Linked DNA regions of Homo sapiens: region 1 is linked to region 2. The links come from fine-mapping of genetic effects on gene expression. Tissue or cell type: esophagus muscle. Region 2 holds a variant in brackets; the other region holds the start of a gene. All regions are shown on one strand. Distances are between the middles of the regions.

Region 1 (9,037 bases), 36 kb before region 2:
AATCCCAGCACTTTGGGAGGCCGAGGCGGGCGGATCACGAGGTCAGGAGATCGAGACCATCCTGGCTAACACAGTGAAACCCCGTCTCTACTAAAAATAGAAAAAATTAGCCAGGCGTAGTGGCGGGCGCCTGTAGTCCCAGCTACTCGGGAGGCTGAGGCAGGAGAATGGCGTGAACCCGGGAGGCAGAGCTTGCAGTGAGCCGAGATTGTGCCACCGCACTCCAGCCTGGGCGACAAAGCGAGACTCCGTCTCAAAAAAAAAATGAACAGACTTGGCCAGGTGCACTGGCTCACGCCTGTAATCCCAGCACTTTGGGAGGCCGAGGTGGGCAGATCACTTGAGGTCAGGAGTTCAAGACCAGCCTGGCCAACATGGCGAAACCCTCATCTCTATTAAAAACACAAAAATTAGCCAGGCATGGTGGCACACGCCTATAATCCCAGCTACTTGGGAGGCTGAGGCACAAAAATCACTTGAAACTGGGAGGCAGAGGTTGCAGTGAGCCAAGATTGCACCACTGCACTCCAGCCTGGGTAAGAAAGCGAGACTCTGTCTCAAAAATAATAATAATAATGAACAGATTTGTCCTGAATGCCATTTAAACTATTAAGTATAGAATACAGGTTATGTCCTATATAATGAATATTTCTACAGAATAAGAGAAAACCAGGGCCACTTATATTTACCTTCATTCCCAATTTGCATTTTAAATGCAGTGTTGTGTCAAGTTCATTTTCACTCATTTTCACTAAAGCTGACCATTGATAATGCTGAAAAAACACAGGAGAGAACAGGACACATCCATATGCTGACCGAGAAGAATTCACACATCTTAGAGCAAGCTAGAAAAATAAGATAAAAACTATTTAGGAGAGGTTGCGCATGGTGGCTCCCATGAACCTGTAATCCAAGCACTTTGGGAAGCCAAGGCAGGAGGATGGATGGAAGCCAGGAGTCTGAGACCAGCCTGGCCAACAGAGCAAGACCCCACCTCTATTTTTTTATTTTAAAAAAATTTAGGAGAAAATAAACTTTCTTTACATAATAGCTTGATTCAGAAAACGTCATTATGTTTAACATCACAGTTAAATGTGTTCAAATAAGAACATGGGATGTTAATTATGGACTGCCCTATATAGTCTGTATTGAATTTGCATATATATACATATATGTACACCTATAATATATACAGGACATAACCTGTATTCTATACTTGATAGTTTAAATGGCATTCAGGACAAGTCTGTTAATTTATTATACACCTATATATATACATACATATAGGTGTACATACATGTATATATACAAGCATGTACGTATATATAGGTGTATACATATATGTATATTATATTGAATACATATATGTGTTAAATCTAAAAGTTTACATGTTGAAAACATAAAATAGTAAATGCCTACAGGGGCCTTAACTTTCTTTTAATTTCTTTTTTACTTTTTTTCAAAAAACCAGCCTGTTGGCCAGGCTGGAGTGCAATGGTACCACCGCAGCTCACTGCAGCCTCCAAACCCCTGGCCTCAACCAATCCTCCCTCCTCTCAGCCTTCCAAGTAGCTGGGACTACAGGCACACAACATATCACCCGACTAATTTTTAAAATTTTTTTGTAGAGACAGGTAGTGTCTTGCTTTGTTGCTCAGGCTGGTCTCGAACTCCTGGGCTCAAGTGATCCTCCTGTCTCAGCCTCCCAAAGTGCTGGGATTACATTTGTGAACTACCACACCCAGTCATGAGCCTTAACCTTAATGTGTGAAATGGCAAAAGGCAATATATAAGGGAGTTGCAATATATAAGGGAGTTACAGCATATTGGCGGTCTCACACCTTGTCTAAGCGGGGAAACCATTACTCAGTTTCAGCCAACTACTTCCACTTGGGAATGAATGCAGTCCCAAAACTGTCAGGTCTTCTGAATTTTCAAGAGAAGCAGGAAAAATTTGACTCAATTTTTTTTTTTTTTTTTTTTGGGACGGAGTCTCACTCTCACTCTGTTGCCCAGGCTGGAGTGCAGTGGCACCATGTCGGCTCACTCACTGCAACCTCCATCTGCTGGATTCAAGCAATTCTCCCACCTCAGCCTCCCGAGTAGCTGGGATTACAGGTGCCCACCACCATGCCAGGCTAATTTTTATATTTTTAGTAGAGAAGGAGTTTCACCATGTGGACCAGGCTAGTCTCGAACTCCTGACCTCAGGTGATCCACCCACCTCGGCCTCCCAAAGTGCTGGGATTACAGGCGTGAGCCATCGCGCCCGGCCTCAATTTTTAAATGTTGGAAATTATTTCAAATTAAAAAAAAAAAAAAACAGTGCAGGCCAACAAACATTCCTGCAGACCGTAGCTAGTCTCTTAACTACCAGTTTGTGACTTCCAGTTTAAATCAATCAAGCTTATCTGCATATTTTCAACTTTACCATGCTCTAAGTGTATTCAGATATGTAAAATAAAGATAAACAGTGAAAGGGATAATTACAATTTCTGGATTTCCTAGTTAACATTCAATCTGGACTGGGATCTTTAAACATCTCCTCTTGCCTTGATACGTGATCTGTTAACTTTCTTACTTACACCTTTTTTAGATGGGTCTAGCCAGAACTCGTCACTAATTCGTGATAGAGCTTGAACTGCTTTCCCAAATACTATGGAGAAAAAGAAAGGTGATGCTTATATTCTTTCCCTCTAACAATAAAAACAAATCACAAGACTAGTTCAGCATTCAGAGGACTCAAGAGAAATTCAAAAATAACAGTATCTTACAGACTAATGCTACATTACTTTAATACAGTATAATACCCTTGGCAAAATGCCAGACACATAGTCAGGGCTCAATAAATTTGTAGTGTGTGAAATGATAAAATTGACCGAAATTTGTCCTTCTATATGTTTACAGTGTTGCATGGAGCTACTGTGCAAACCAATTTCCATACTAATGTATTTTACAACTTGATTTAGATAAATGTATTTGACCCCCCAAAAACTGTGAAAACAGTGCATGGAGAAGATAATCTGAAGTGGTTTTAATAGCTTGATAGCCAAGTCACAACAAGTCATGAGAGAGAAATTAGGGGTATCCAACATACATCTCTGATGTTTGAGGGCAGCCAGATTTCCCCACCACAGAACACATTTAGGGCTGGAAAACACACTAGTCTGATCCCGTACGACATTGTTAATGTTCTTTTTATTTTTTATTTTTTTTGAGACAGAGTCTCACTCTGACACTCAGGCTGGAGTGCAGTGGCACGAGCTCAACTCACTGCAGCCTCAACCTCCCGGGCTCAATCGATCCTCTCGCCTCAGCCTTCCAAGTAGCTTGGGATTACAGGCGCCCACCACTAAGCCCGGCTAATTTTTGTATGTTTAGTAGAGACGGGGTTTCATCATGTTGGTCAGGGTGGTCTCGAACTCCCGACCTAAGGTGATCCACCCGCCTTGGCCTCCCAAAGTGCTAGGATTACAGGCGTGAGCCACTGCACCCGGCCTAACTTCCATTTTGAAAGCGCCGTTTACAACACTAATAGTTCTTGTACATTCCATCTATTACTGGGCTCTTTACACGCATTTCCATTTCATTGCCTCCAAACAAACTCTGTGACGAAGGTGCTGTCATTACCCCTGTTTCCGTTTTAGAAACTGAGCCCCAAAGAGATTTAGTGACTTTTCCAAGTTCATACATTTTTAAAAATGGTAGAATCTGGGGAAAAAAAAAACCAGGTTAATGCTGTTCTCTTGGCACAAAAATACTTTTACTGTCCAAGCATTATTTTTTTCTCTCAACTCTTCCCCATGCAGTCCTCAGCATCCCGAGTTTGTGGCCCGATGGTACAACTCTATTTCCCGGATACCACCCATATTACATCTGCCTCTAAGTCACACGAGATGGGTCCTCATCCTCCCCTCAGAAGTTAACAGGGACTTGAGTGGGTGGGGCTGTGGCCAGGGCGTGCGTCCTCAGTCATTGCGCAAAAAGGCAAAGAGGAAAAATTAGACAATGGTAGGGACGACCTATTAACGTCTGCTTTTCTCTCTGCTAAATGGGAAGACAACAAAGGCCGCTCCACCTTTCACCTGACTGCCGCTCATCACGCACTTCAGCATGGCTGCCATCCGCCCTAAAAAGCAGGCTCGGAAGGCGCGCCTCAGCTCGACGGCCCAGGTGCCCGGATGTTGCCCGCGCTTTTCAAAGCTTCGCGATCTCGTCTCTGCACTCTACCACCCCGCCTCCACAAGTTCCCAAACGGCTTTACGGCGGAGAAGGGTCCGTGCGGGCCTCCGTACGGCAATTTCTGTCTCCCTCTGCTCTCATTGGTTGCGGTTAAGTGGGCGGGTCGCCGAGGAGCCTGAGGAAGAGGGCGGCGACGGTGGTGGTGACTGAGCGGAGCCCGGTGACAGGATGGTGAGGGCTGCAGTTGCGGCGACCAAGGCCTGGCTCTCGGGTGGGGTGCTGCGTTGTTGGGAGCCGTGGGGAGGCCGAGGGCGAGGAATTGGGAAATCCCGGAGGCCTCGGCGTCAGGGCCCAGGCGCTGGCCTGGGAAAGGCCCAGAAGAGGTCTAGGGAAGGAAGGGAGCGGCCACCTCTGGGTGCGGCTGGCCTAGGTCTCGTATCCCGGCCCCAAGGGGCCAGAGGCCATCCAAGGGGTAAAAAGGCCCCTCTAGCAGCCCGACCTGTCACGAGACACGCACGCCCGAGCCAGGGAAGGCCTTTGGTCCTATACCTCGAATGTTCCGGGGATAGGGGCACGGTCCTCCGTTTCCAGACGGTTCCTACTCGTTTCCCGCAAAAAGCACCTCCCGCTGGTTGGGGTGTAGTGGTGGAAGCTGGCCTCTCGAATGCAGAACAGGAAGTAGCGAGCAGAATTTCGTACCCGTTTAACTTTGCCATCTAGGGAAAGGGAATAAACCACCCTCCTCGCTCCTGAAATAACATCTAGCTGCCATTGAGATGAGCAGGTGTGCTCTCAGAGGGCGGGATTTGGCGCTTGCAATTGCTGGAACTGTTTCTTTCCACGGGTTGCTACGCCTCTTTAGGGTAGGATTCCTTAATGATGTGTGAACTCATTGAAACTGTTGGGAAATTTTTGTGAATATACACATTTTTCTGGGGAGAGTGCCGGTGTTGGAGACTTACCTAGTCTCCCCCAGCCACCTTCAAGCAATCACCCCTTCACCCCCAGTAGTTTGGTGCCCCTCAGACCTTCCTACATAAAAACTGGGGGCCTCTACTAGAGAGGACTCAGAGCTGTAATCATATTTTCTTTCTTTCTTTTTGAGATGGAGTCTCGCTCTGTCGCCCAGGCTGGAGTGCAATGCCGCGATCTCGGCTCACTGCAATGCCGCCCGGGTTCAAGCCTCAGCTCCTGCCTCAGCCTCCCGAGTAGCTGGGATTACAGGCGCCCGCCACCAAGCCCGTCTAAATTTTTGTATTTTTAGTAGAGACGGGGTTTCACCATGTTGGTCAGGCTGGTCTCTACCTCCCGACCTCAGATGATCCACCCGCCTCGGCCTCCCAAAGTGCTGGGGTTACAGGCGTGAGCCACCGCGCCCGGCCTGTAATCATATTTTCAAAGGTGCCTTTGACTCTTAAAAAGTCAATTGTTTGGGGCAACCCACTCGGGTCCCCTTCCACCCTGTGTAAGCTTTGTTCTTTCGCTCTTCACAATAAATCTTGCTGCTGCTCAAAAAAAAAAAAAAAATCAATTGTTTGAAATGGAGCTGTGATTATCTTCATATTTGTGTTGATGGAGGTTGGCTGTAAAGGGACGTCTACCTCTGACAGGCATTTATTGCATTCTTTTTTATTTTTACAAGGAAACCAAAGAAGCTATGCATTTTTAAGATTATTACTATTGCATGACAAACAGCCTTTTCAAGAGGGGGACTTACAGACATGGCAGCCAGAGATTTATGGTGCATGCTTCTTTAAAATCTTTAATCTCACTTTTAATTTTTGCTTCTAAACAGACTCCAATTTAAAGTAATCCGTTTACAGTAATTTCGAGACACCTATCCATGGGAGAAGACATAATTACTTGCCATGGTTTCAAAATATTAATGTTTCTCAAGTTGTTTGAGAAGTGATCCCTCTTATTTAGGGTAGTTGTACTGGAACATCATTTTTCATATGAAATAGAACTGGGAAAAATTTAGCATTAGCCAGTTCTTTCATGATTAAAAGCATTTTATTTGGCAAAGGATACAGACGTTCAACACTCAGTACAGTGTCCAGAGTCTGTGGGCAGCAAATTCAAGTGTGGGAAAGGTCCAGTTTTACCTGAATAAATGTGTTTGTTTTTATTATTTTGTCTTCACCTTTAGTTGATTTGTTCAACACTTGATAATGTATTCATGGTGCTGTGTTGCATCAGCTACAAAAAATCACCTAGCCGCAGCATAATTTTCCAGCTACTAGAATTTTGAATGTAAGATAATTAACATCCATATACTTGAATAATTAAACCCTAAGAATCCAGAAAATGTTAGCCTTTCAGCTATTACTGATGATAAATTTTCCACAGTGTCTTGTAGAAATCCAAATTCATTATTTTATAAAATCTTATAAAAATCTAAACAGAATGGAAAACAGAGATGGAAGTCGATGTACAGAACAAGATTAGGAAAAGTAGGAGAAACTGACAAGACAAATTTATTAAAAAGTGTGTGTGTCATGTTCAAAAATAAAGCAAATATTTATTTTGGTATTGTTTTGAGCACAGCTGATTTTTAACATTTTCTTTCATAACACTCAGAAATCATTAACAATTGTTTGCTCATTTGGTATGGGTTTTTTGTTCTCTTTTTTTTTTTTGGTTTCTTTTTGTTGCTTTCTTTTAACATTGGTCATGTTTCACCCTTTTTTTTTCATCCCCCCTGTCTGCAATCAACTTCTTCATTCCACTAAGGCTGGGCACAGAGTAAGTTTCTTCACTTAGCTCCTACTAACAGTGGTGGTTGGGTGGCTGTTTACTGACTGGATTTCTTACCCTTTTAAGGTCTGTTGAAAGGAAGTAACCGAATTCCCATGCTTTGATTGGGTTGGCTCTTTATTTTAATTTAATAAGACTGCCATTTCCAGGATCTTTTGCTTTCTTAAAGGACTCTATCATCTATGTCTATCCCGATTTGTCAAAGTGTGGAATTTGGGCGGGAACATGTTTCAAAGTATGACACGTGTTATGTAACACTATTTCCCCATAACTTTGTCATCAGCAGGAAACCAGAGGATTCTGTCCTAGTAAGGATCCCTACTAATTTGAAATGATTGTGTGGTCATTCATACAGTTATATCTTTAGACTGCTAATAGTCTTGAGTCTTGGAGATAATCCACAGTACTTTATAGAATTAGGTCATCAATCATTATAAAGTACCATGTCTTACTAATGTTCTTTCTGGTACATTCAGATTGAACAGCTCATTCATTATTAGTACCAAACATTTCAACCTGTTGTAGACATATACCCTTTTATGAGTTTGGGGTGGTGGTTGTTGTTGTTGTTCTTCTTCTTCTTTTAAATATAGAAATCTATTATTTTTACCTTTTTCTCAAAGCAAGATTCCCATACTAACTATGTACTTCAATCCATATCAGAAGGAATCCCCCTCTAAAATGAAGATTGTTCTATATCCAGGTACTTTTATGTTGATTACCAGTGAGGGTGGAAACTTCATAGTGGTTTTTAGTTTTACAGATGTTTTGTCCACTGAGATCTGCATTGAAACAATTAATATAGGTCATACAACAAATACCTGCTGAAACTAGTCTTTATAAAGAAGAATCTTACTTAACAATTTTAAAGTGTGCTAATTTCATAACCTTGTGTTACTTTGAGATTACAAACTATGTCCCGATAACTCTGTGTCCTGGTAACGGTTCCTTTTCTTTGCAATAATTTTAATTTTTGTTGCAAGATAAATCAAGCTTCTTTTGGTAATCATTTTAATTTCATACATTTTGTTTGTTTGATTAATTTTCATTTACAAAGTCTGCAGTGGCAAAACTATTTTGTTTTATCCTATTAGCTATTTAATGGTTTCTTTGATAATATTAAAGAATAGTCATGCCTTTAAAAGCAGTTAAAGGGCATGTACATTTATGCATGCAATATCTGTAAAGGAAAACATTTTGTATAGAATGAAGGTGCTTATACTGATCAACATGAAGAAACTGATTCTGTTGGGCTGGGCGCAGTGGCTCACGCCTATAATCCTAGCAGTTTGGGAGGCCAGGGCAGGTGGGTCACCTGAGGTCAGATGTTGGAGACCAGCCTGGCCAACACGGTGAAACCCTGTCTCTACTAAAAATACAAAAATTAGCTGGGTGTAGTGGAGAGCGCTTGTAATCCCAGCTACTCGGGAGGCTGAGGCAGGAGAACTGCATGAACCTGGGAGGCAGAGGTTGCAGTGAGCCAAGATTGCACCATTGCACTCCAGCCTGGGCGACGAGAGCAAAATTCCATCTCAAAAAAAAAAAAAAAAAATCGATTCTGTTGTCCTTTGGAGGATAGATACTATTTTTTTGTTTGTTTGTTTTGAGACAGAGTCTCACTCTGCTGCCCAGGCTGGAGTGCCAGTGGCATCCAGTGCCAGTGCCAGTGCCATCTCAGCTCACTGCAACCTCCGCCTCCTGAGTTCAAGCAATTCTCCTGCCTCAACCTCCCAAGTTGGCTGGGATTACAGGCGCCTGCCACCGTGCCCAGCTAACTTTTGTATTTTTCTTTTTAGTAAAGACAGTGTTTTACCATGTTGGCCAGGCTGGTCTCGAACTCCTGACCTCAAGTATTCTGCCCACCTCGGCCTCCCAAAGTGCTGGGATTACAGGTGTGAGCCACCGCACTCAGCCAGACAGATACTATTTTTAAATGATCTTTCTAACAGTATTCTGTTAAATGGCTAAATTAATGTTGTTTCTCAAATCTTGAAATTTTTAAATTAGGCCAGGCGTGGTGACTCATGCCTGTAATCCTAGCACTTTGGGAGGCGGAGGCAGGTGGATCACCTGAGGTCAGGAGTTCCAGACCAGCCTG
Region 2 (10,225 bases):
GCCTCAATAAACCTGACTTTAAAGAAAAAAAGTGCTGGGCACGGTAGCTCCCGCCTGTAATCCAGCACTCTGGGAGGCCGAGGCGGGTGGATCACGAGGTCAGGAAATCGAGACCATCCTGGCTAACATGGTGAAACCCCGTTCTCTACTAAAAATGCAAAAACTTAGCCAGGCGTAGTGGCACGTGCCTGTAGTCCCAGCTACTCAGGAGGCAGGAGAATCGCTTGAACCTGGGAGGCGGAGGTTGCAGTGAGCCAAGATCACACCACTGCACTCCAGCCTGGGTGACAGAGCGAGACTCCATCTCAAAAAAAAAGAAGAAAAAAAGTAAGGAGTTCCGGAGTTCCCATTAGTTAATAATGGGATTTTTGGCAGATCACTTCCCCTTTCAGATTAGTAAATATGACCGGAATTGATGATTTTTAAGACCCCTGCCAGTGCCAACATTGTATCATGTAGCATAATAAACCTGATTCTAGTTTGAAAATTTTATTTTGTATTTCTGGGAATATAAGCTTTTCATAAATTAGTCTTGGTTTGTGTTTTTTAATGGGGTTCCTTAAACCAAACTGAAGGGCATACTGTCTTTTTTTTTAATTGTAGTTTTAAGAGTTTGGATAAACTAAAGGAAGCATGGAGATGAACGACAGGCGGAGATAAAAGGAAAGGACAAACAACCTCTTTGTGCCTGTTTTGTCATCCATAAAGTGGGGATCATAATAGAACCTTCCAGGATTACAGGCTCATGCCCATCTCTACTAAAAATACAAAAATTAGCCAGGTACGTGGTGGCGCACACCTGTAGTCCCAGCTACTTGGGAGGCTGAGGCAGGAGAATTGCTTGAACACAGGAGGCGGAGGTTGCAGTTAGCTGAGATCGTGACACTGCACTCCAGCCTGGGTGACAGAGGGAGACTCTGTCTCAATAAAAAAAAAAAAAAAAATTCACGTATCTCCTGATACACCAGGATCCTGCAGTCGGCCAAGGACTGTGAAGAACAGAAAAGAAACCCAAGACTCCATCCCATCTTTAAGAAGTCTTCAGTAGCACCAGAGACAAAAAGGACGGCCATGCGGGCGGATCACGAGGTCAGGAGATCGAGACCATCCTGGCTAACACGGTGAAGCCCCGTCTCTACTAAAAATACAAAAAAGTAGCCGGGCGTGGTGGCAGGCGCTTGTAATCCCAGCTACTCCAGAGGCTGAGGGAGGAGAATGGCGTGAACCCGGGAGGCGGAGCTTGCAGTGAGCTGAGATGGCACCACTGCACTCCAGCCTGGGCAACAGAACGAGACTCTGTCTCAAAAAAAAAAAAACAAAAAGGATGGCCATGGGTGCAACAGGGGCCCTGACTGCGGGTTGTACTGAACGGCAAACATATCGCAGTTCTTGCTTTTAGGGAATAAAGTAGGGAGAGGAAGAGGAGGTAGAGTCTCCAGCAGTGACTTCAACAGCTCGCTGTCTTCACTATCTAGGAAATAGGTGTAAAAACCTGCTCAAAACGAAATAGATTTGTGAAAAAAGGAACTTCAGTGTGAAGAAAATGTCAAGATCAAGGCACCTCGGATATTCAGTCATTGGTCTCATTGGCGATTAGAAATCCTCGTTTGAGGTCGGGCGCAATGGTTCACCCCGTAATCCCAGCAATTTGGGAGGCCGAGGCGGGCGGCTCACTTGAGGTCAGGGGTTCGACACAAGCCTAGCCAACATGGTGAAACCACCTCTCTACTAAAAATACAAAAATTAGCCGGGCGTGGTGGCAGGCGCCTGTAATCCCAGCTACTCGGGAGGCTGAGGCAGGAGAATCACTTGAACCTGGGAGGCTGAGGTTGCAGTGAGCTGAGATCGCACCACCGCATTCCAGCCTAGGCAACAGAGCGAGACTGTCTCGCTCTCAAAAAACAAGAAAGAAAAGAAAAAAAAAGAAAAAGAAATCCCCGTTTGACAGGAAGGTGGCTCATGTCACTAGAGGGAAGGAACTGGTTTATGGGCCTGGATGCCCCCAGTTGAACCGGGGGACATCTTCCTCCTCTGTCCCTCCCGCCTCGCCTTTCGGTGGACACACAGTCCTGTGCCAGACAGCAAACGTCCCAGCAGGGCTCGCAGCGCCCCCTCGGGGCAGAGAGATGCACGCGGGCGACTGTCGCAGTCACCTCGTGGCCACTGCACCAAACGCTCCTCCGAAGCTTCCCTCAGAGACCCTCCCTCAACCGCGAGGCAGTCCTCCCCTCTGCCCTCTGTCCACAACAAAACTGCTCCCCGCCTCTCACTTGAGGGCACCGGGGCCAGCCCCCGAGACGAGAGGTCGGCCGCAGCCCTCCTCCACGGGGCTCACGACCCGGGGGCCTCACGACCCGGGGGCCCCATGCTGCCACCCTTACCCCGGGGCCCCCAACCTCACCCGCCGCCGCCACCCTCGGTCCCGGCCACAGCGGGCGGCTCTGCAGAAGAGCTACGCTCCGTCCAGTCGGACCCCGGACCCTGGCCGGGCATCTCCGCGGCGCCGAGACCGCGAGCCGTGTGCGGGAGCAGCTGTCCCAGCATCCCTCCCCCGACAGCACGCGTGCGTCAGGCTGCTGGTATTCCGGAGAGGCGGCTCGGATGCTGGCTTCTCGCCCCTCCGAAGCCGTTCGGACACTGCCCGAACAGCTTCGGGAGAGCGGGGCGGGCAGATCCGCGACCCCGGAGTTACGGTGGGGGAGGGGCAGGAGCGCTGCGGTCGCTGAGCGTTTGCACGTTTGCACCTCTCTGTGGAAGCAGTGCGTCACAGGAGGGAAATATACATGCTCCCCAAAACAAGAGGTGCCTTCCACTTCAGTATTCCAGATCCTCAGCACATTTGCAAATCGCGAGGGTCACCATACAGGTCAAACGTCTGCACGCAAACCACGGACCGAAGCACGTGGCGCAAGGATGCGGAGCTTTATCTGTTGTCCGTTATTACTCAGGTATCCAAGCTTAGACAGCATCCCAACGGCCGATTTCCATCAACTACTTTTGCGCACGCGCAAATCCTCTCCCTCGCCCCTCCCCTTTTTTCTCAGGACGCGTTTCTCACGGGATTTGGCCCGCGGGCTGCCCCGTAGTAGGAGGTGTGGTAGAACTGGAGGCGTAGAAAGAATGTGGATTGCGATTGGTTCGCACTTCACTTTCCCGGAGCTCAGTGGGCGTCGCGCGAAGGCTAAGGGAGTGTGGCGGGCGGCTCCGGGAGCCAACATGCCTCGGTATGCGCAGCTGGTCATGGGCCCCGCGGGCAGCGGGAAGGTGAGGATCTGCGGGGACAAGGAGAGAAAAGTAGGAGTTCGTGGAAGGCGGGAGATTGGGTCCTGAGGGAGTGAGCCGGCGGGTGTGTGTACTGGGAACCCTGAGACCCCACGCAACTCATTTCTGCTGTCTGGCTTCACGTTCTTTTTTGTTGTTGTTTTGAAAGGGAAATAATGGTAGTTGTTAATATTTATTGTATACTTAAGCCCCAGGCAGCAGATGAAACGCCTCGCTTATTTCTACAACAACCCTGTGAGAGAGATCTCATTTTTCTCATTTTACAGAAAACGAGATACAGAAAGGTTAATTAAGTTCTTTGCCCCGCAAAAAAATATAAATCCAGTTTTGTCTCAACTCCAGAATCCGGCCCTGTCTCGCTCCCAGGAGGGTAAAGTGGGGTCTCATTAATTACTGTTTCTCAGAACTTGGGACATGGACTTTTGGTATTTAAGGTGCTTTTAGGTGGTAGGTGGTACATGGACCCCACATTAAGGAGCATCAGATAATGTGTTAGGGAAATTGTTCCCTTTTCATTTCTCTTTCAGTTCTCAACTTCGCATTTAGGAGAAGTTGTGCTCGGTGCTAGTGTGTATCTTCAGCACTTCTTTAATCCCCAGGTCTTTTCAGAGAGCAGTTCTTAGTCTCAGAGCTTTTAATAGGCACCTGTATTTAGCTAAAAATAGAACATTTAAAGATTTTATATAATTTTATGTCTAATTTCACGTTATGTCAAATATAAGTGGTTTTCAGTTTACAGTAGGGATAAAATTTTTTCTTGTAAACAAATATTAAGGGAATGTTAGGAACATTCAAATACAGTGAGAATGGTGAAGATATGGATCAAATAACATATGTGTGGGAAACATAGCCAGGCGTGGTGGCTCACGTCTGTAATCCTATCACTTTGGGAGATGGAGGTGGACGGATCGCCTGAGCCCAGGAGTTTGGGACCAGCCTTGGCAACACGGCGAAACTCTGTCTCTACAAAAAAATGCAAAAATTAGCCAGGCCTGGTGGCAGGTACCTCTAGTCCCAGCTTCTCGGGAAGCTGAAGTGGGAGGATTACCTGAACCCAGGAGGTTGAGGCTGTGGTGAGTGGTGATCGTGCCACTGCACTCCAGCCTGGGTGACAGAGGTACTGTCGCAAAAAAAAAAAAGAAGAAGTGTGGAAACACTAGAGTCTGTGGAGGTGTTGTGTGGCCTCAGTCTTTAACAAACACATTGTTCTAAGCTGTTGACTTATTCTGGGTAAAAACATGTACATGTAACTAAGATACCTATGGCCTTTAACTTACCCAGAGTCTGTAGTCTTTTGGGGAAGACAAATAGATGACCTGTCAATTAAGATACAGTGTGATGTGGCCAGGTGTGGTGGCTTAAGCCTGTAATCCTCGCACTTTGGGAGGCTGAGGCCAGCAGATCACTTGAGCCCAGGAGTTCAGGGTCAGCCTGGGCACCATGGTGAAGCCCTGTCTCTACCAAAAATACAAAAATTAGCTGGGCATGGTGGCGAGAGCCTATAGTCCCACCTACTCGGGGGGCTAAGGCTGGAGAATCGCTTGAGCCTGGGTCAAAGCTGCAGTGAGCTATGATGGTGCCACTGCACTCCAGCCTGGGTGACAGTGAGACCCTTTGCAAAAAAAAAAAAGATACAGTGTGTGATGTATGGAGAGGGCATTCCAGACAGAGACAACAGTATGTGTAAAGGCACTGAGAGGACAGCATGATGGATGTTTTTTCTATAGTCTATTTTAATTTTTGGGCTGATTGTATTAAACAAGTATCTTTATAAGCTTTTGATGCTTACTATCAGAAACATTCCTTGAGTACGTTCTTTATCCCAGGCACTGTTTTGGGCCCTGGGGGTTGTATGGGGAAAAAAACATGCACACACAAAATCCGTGCCCTTGTGGAGCTTATCTTTAAACATAATAAGTCAATTAGAAACAATTATCAAGTATTTATTATGTACTAGGTATTGCGCTAGTCCCTGTGCTTGGGAAACTGAATAAGACACATCTCTGCCTTTAAACAGAGTATGACACAGACAAGTAGCCTAGAGACTTTTTTTTTTTTTTGAGCCAGGAGTCTTGTTCTGTCATCCAGGCTAGAGTGCAGTGGTGTGATCTCAGCTCACTGCGACCTCTGCCTCCCGGGTTCAAGCGATTCTCCTGCCTCAGCCTCCTGAGTATCTGAGATTACAGGCATACGCCACCACGCCCAGCTAATTTTTGTATTTTTAGTAGAGACGAGGTTTCACCATGTCGGCCAGGCTGGTCTCCAACTCCTGACCTCAGGTGATCCGTCGACCTCAGCCTCCCAAAGTACTGGGATTACAGGTGTGAGCCACTGCACCCAGCCCGAGATGTTAACATAGTACGGTAACAACTACATAATGGATAAAGAATTATCTAAACCAAAAGTTACAAACTGATAGCCACCTCCAGACTATTTATTGATCTTGGCGTTCTTTCATCTTGGAATGCTCTTCCCCTTAGGTTGGCAAACTCCTTCTCATATACTCATATCTCCCCTACTCAGAGACATCATCCCTGACCATCCTACCTAAAGCTTTGTTTG[C/G]ACTGTACAAGTCCTGGTAGAGACACTGTGTTAGGTGTTACACTATGTAACCAGAACTCTTCCCTTTAAATACCGCTTGTCACATTTAGAACAGTAAGGAGCCTTAGTGATTATGGAGGACATCCCAGTTAGAGACACGAAAATTGAAGGGCAGAGTGGAGAAGTAAATTCCCCAGAGGTACCCATGAGTCTAAGTCAGGTTTGAATCTGCAGCCCAGTCAGGTATCTTTTTCCCTTGTTGTCAGTCAGCCTCTTGGTTGATGAAGGCATAGTTTTGACCTTAGTGGATAGTATTCCAGAGTATGGAAGGTAGCACTACACTACCTGTTGCTTTAACCTCTCATGCCTTGTGACATTACAGAGCACCTACTGTGCCACCATGGTCCAGCACTGTGAAGCCCTCAACCGGTCTGTCCAAGTTGTAAACCTGGATCCAGCAGCAGAACACTTCAACTACTCCGTGATGGCTGGTAAGTCCTGAGCAAAGGCTCCCCCCACCTTCAGGAACAGTAAGGGCTGGGGAGGCAGTGAGTACTAGCTGCTTAGCACTGATACTTATTATAGTCTGGATCCCTGGTGTTATGGTAAATAGCATGAGCTTGTCATTTGGTCACATCTGTTCATGGTGATATGTGTGACAGTATCCTTTCTTGGTCTTTGATGTAAGATTTAAAAGTAAATGGGGCCGGGCGCGGAGGCTCATGCCTGTAATTCCAGCACTTTGGGAGGCCGAGGCGGGTGGATCACGAGGTCAGGAATTTGAGACCAGCCTGACCAACATGGTGAAACCCTGTCTCTACTAAAAACACAAAAAAATCAGCTGGGTGTGGTGGCATGTGACTGTAATCCCAGCTACTCAGGAGGCTGAGAAAGGAGAATCGCTTGAACCCAGGAGACAGAGGTTGCAGTGAGCCGAGATTGCGCCACTGCACTCCAGCCTGGGCAACAGAGCGAGACTCCATCTCAAAAAAAAAAAAAAAAAAAGTAAATGGACACTTCCCTCAGCACCCTTTCATTCTGTCCCTTTTGTCCTTAGTCCTGCTGTAGTGAATCATGTGGTATATTGCTGATCACTATAAGTCAGGAGCCTGGGTTTGTTTTTTTTAATTCTTTCAATTTGTTCATTCAAGTGTCTGTTGAACACCTGTTTTACGCCAGACACCGGAGTTATAGCAGAGAATAATACAGACATTATCCCTGCCCACACCAACCCTTTAGGAAATAGGCAATAAACAACATGATGAACATGTTACAGAATGTGATGACTGCAGACAGGCTCATGAGAAGTACTCATTGAGGTTGCTTTAGCTAGAATTGTCAGGGAGAATGGTGACTCTGAGGAGGGGATCTTTGAGCCTAGACCTGAAGGATGGTAATATGCTCCTCAGGCTGAGGAAAGTCCTTCCAAAATGAGGGAACATTTAGATCAATAAATATGCCAAGCTGGGTGCAGGGACATGTGCCTGTAGTCCCAGCTACTTGGGAGGCTGATGTGGGAGGATCACTTGAGCCCAGGAGTTCAAGTCCAGCCTGGGCAACATTGCAAGATCCATCTCTGAAAAATAAAATAAATAAATAAATAGCCTGGAGGTGAGAAAGGATTTGGTATTCTCCAGGAAAGCTAAGATGTCAGTGAGCTAAAGCGTAATGTCTGAAAGAAAGAAGTGGGTAGGGGCTAACAGGACATGATAAGATGGGATTTTATCCTGTTGTCAGTGGGGTGCCACTAGAGGGTTTTAAGAAGAGGAAAGGATTGACATTTGATACACGTTTTGGGGTTTTTTTTTTTTTTTGAGACAGGGTCCAGCTCTGTCGCCCAGGCTGGAGTGCAGTGACACAACCTCTGCCTCCTGAGCTCAAGCCATCCTCCCATCTCAGCCTCCCAAGTAGCTGGGACTACAGATGCGTGCCACCATGCCTGGCTAATTTTTATACTTTTTTTTTTTTTTTTTTTTTTTTTTTTTTTTTTGTAGAGACAGGGTTTCACCATGCTGCCCAGGCTGGTCTCAAACTCCTGAGCTCAAGCAATCTGCTGGCCTCAGTCTCCCAAAGTGTTGGGATTAGAGGCGTGAGCCACTGCATCCGGCCTTTTTTTGTTTTTGTTGTTGTTGTCGTTTTGTTTTTGAGACAAGGTCTCACTCTGTCACCCAGGCTATATAGTATAGTAGCCTGATCACAGCTCATTGCAGTCTCAACCTCCTGGACTCAAGCAATCCTCCTACCTCCCAAGTAGCTGGGACTACAGGCACACACTATCATGCCTGGGTAATTTTTGTATTTTTTGTAGAGGCGGGGTTTCTCCATGTTGCCCAGGCTGGTCTCATTGCCCAGGCTGGTCTCGATTTCCAGGCTGGTCTCAAACTCCTGGGCTCAAGTGACTCACCCAGCTTGACTTCCGAAAGTGCTGGGATAATAGGCATGAGCCACCGCACTTGGCCTGATTTATGTTTTAAAAAATAACTCAGGTGCTCAGATGAAAAATGGACTCTAGTGGGTTGAGAGTAGAAGTACAACCTGCATGGCTGGGCATGGTGGCTCACGCCTGTAATCCCAGCACTTTGGGAGGCCGAGGCAGGCGGATCACAAGGTCAGGAGATCAAGACCATCTTGGCTAACACAGTGAAACCCCGTCTCTACTAAAAATACAAAAAACTAGCCGGGCATGGTGGCGGGCGCCTGTGGTCCCAGCTACTGGGGAGGCTGAGGCAGGAGAATGGCGTGCACCCGGGAGGCGGAGCTTGCGGTGAGCCGAGATCGCGCCACTGAACTCCAGCCTGGGCAACAGAGCGAGACTCCGTCTCAAAAAAAAAAAAATACAAAATTAGCTGGGTGTGGTGACACATGCCTGTAATCCCAGCTACTCTGGAGGCTGAGACAGGGGAATCGCTTGAACCCGGGAGGCAGAGGTTCTGGTGAGCCGAGATCGTACCATTGCACTCCAGCCTGGGCAACAAGAGCAAAACTCCATTTTAAAATTAAAAAAAGAAGTACAACCTGCACTGCCGCTGTTGTAGTTAGCCAGGTGTACACCAGGACTAGGGTGGTCACGGTGGAGATGTAAGGAAGCAGACAGATTCAATATATTTTGCAAGTTGAATTAACAGCATTTTGTGGGGGATTGAACCAAGAAGGCATAGCAAAGTAAGGAATCAAGGGTGAGGTCTTACAGCTTTGTTCAGTGTATGATATAATTTCCTGTGGAGGGAGACAGGTCGTTTTAGGTTTGGGGACGTTCTCTTTGCACTCACTAAGTGCAAAGGGAAACTTCTGATTTCTGTTAATGAGTGAGCAGGTTGCGGGGAGGCAGATTGAAGGGAGAGGAGGAGATGTGAAATGCTTTTCTTTGAGAAAAAAGGCATTGTATTACTTTGGAACCATTTGGCTGCAGCAAACAGAAACCACTCTAAGCTAGCTTAGTTAAAAAGAGGACTTAGGATGGGCGCTATGACTGACACCTGTAATCCCAGTACTTTGGGAGGCCAAAGCAGATGGATGGCCTGAACCCAGGAGTTCAAGACCAGCCTGGGAAGCATGGTGAAACCCCATCTCTACAAGTCAATACAAAGATTAGCCTGGCATGCTGGCGGGTGCCTTTATTCCCAGCCACTCAGGAGGCTGAGGTGGGAGGATCACTTGAGCCTACGAGGTCAAGGTTGCAGTGAGCCATGATTATGCCACTGCACTCCAGCCTGGGCAGCAGAGTGAGACCCTGTCTAAAAAGAAAGAAAGCCAGATTGATTGTCCCAATTTGGATCAGTTATCTGTTATTGATTGCTGAGGGAGGGGGTAGGAAGGTGTTGTCAGTATAAATGTGACTGTGAATGAAGCTCAGTCCTTTGTGAATGGAGAATGTAGGTTTGAGCACAAAAATAAGTAAAAACCTAAGGTAGAAGATTCTATATACTGATTCCCCAAAATTAGTAAGATAACCATACCAGAATTTTTTAAGCCTCTCCTGTTGGTGATTTTTTTTTTCCTGAGACAGTCTCTCTCTGCCACCCAGGCTGGAGTGCAGTGGTACCATGTCATCTCACTACATCCTCTGCCTCCTGGGTTCAAGTGATTCTCCTGCCTCAGCCTCCCGAGCAGCTGGGATTACAGGCACATGCCAGCACACCTGACTAATTTTTCTATTTTTGTTTGTTTTTGTTTGAGATGGAGTCTTTTTTTTTTTCAATTTTATAACTTTATTTGATGTATTTGACGATCAGTGATTAGTTCTCATCGACATTGTCTGTAGATTTTTGAAAGTGGTGACAGGTACATAGGTAACCAAAGTATATGGCTTATTTGGTGAATCTTCATCCTCATTACGTTTTCTGGACAGCTGCACACGGATTCAGTATGGGACATTCCTTATTCCTTTGGCCCAGACAGCTTT

The links. PIP is the estimated chance that this variant, and not a neighbour inherited with it, causes the effect.
Region 1: RAD9B starts here. The variant in region 2 is fine-mapped to the expression of RAD9B in esophagus muscle (GTEx, PIP 0.98). The same link has a PIP of 0.9 or more in lung.

The regions. Positions count from the first base shown.
Region 1 is chr12:110,497,425-110,506,461 of GRCh38, reverse strand. It overlaps RAD9B (RAD9 checkpoint clamp component B), which reads right to left and starts at 4,131. Exons shown (of 11, transcript NM_001286535.2): 1 at 4,079-4,131; 2 at 2,586-2,656; 3 at 690-845. The coding sequence starts at 4,124. VPS29 (VPS29 retromer complex component) reads left to right here and starts at 4,351. Exons shown (of 4, transcript NM_016226.5): 1 at 4,351-4,413. The coding sequence starts at 4,411. It overlaps LOC124903015 (a long non-coding RNA gene), which reads right to left. Exons shown (of 2, transcript XR_007063458.1): 2 at 6,637-7,721. RefSeq lists an enhancer at 4,383-4,522 and a silencer at 7,044-7,338.
Region 2 is chr12:110,461,195-110,471,419 of GRCh38, reverse strand. It overlaps GPN3 (GPN-loop GTPase 3), which reads left to right and starts at 3,163. Exons shown (of 8, transcript NM_016301.4): 1 at 3,163-3,264; 2 at 6,206-6,314. The coding sequence starts at 3,217. FAM216A (family with sequence similarity 216 member A) reads right to left here and starts at 2,575. Exons shown (of 7, transcript NM_013300.3): 1 at 2,402-2,575. The coding sequence starts at 2,544. It overlaps LOC124903016 (a long non-coding RNA gene), which reads left to right. Exons shown (of 3, transcript XR_007063459.1): 2 at 604-781; 3 at 969-1,131. It also overlaps the pseudogene RPL31P49. RefSeq lists enhancers at 1,832-2,001, 2,922-3,051 and a silencer at 2,202-2,511. The variant C/G (reference allele first, on the strand shown) is at 5,845.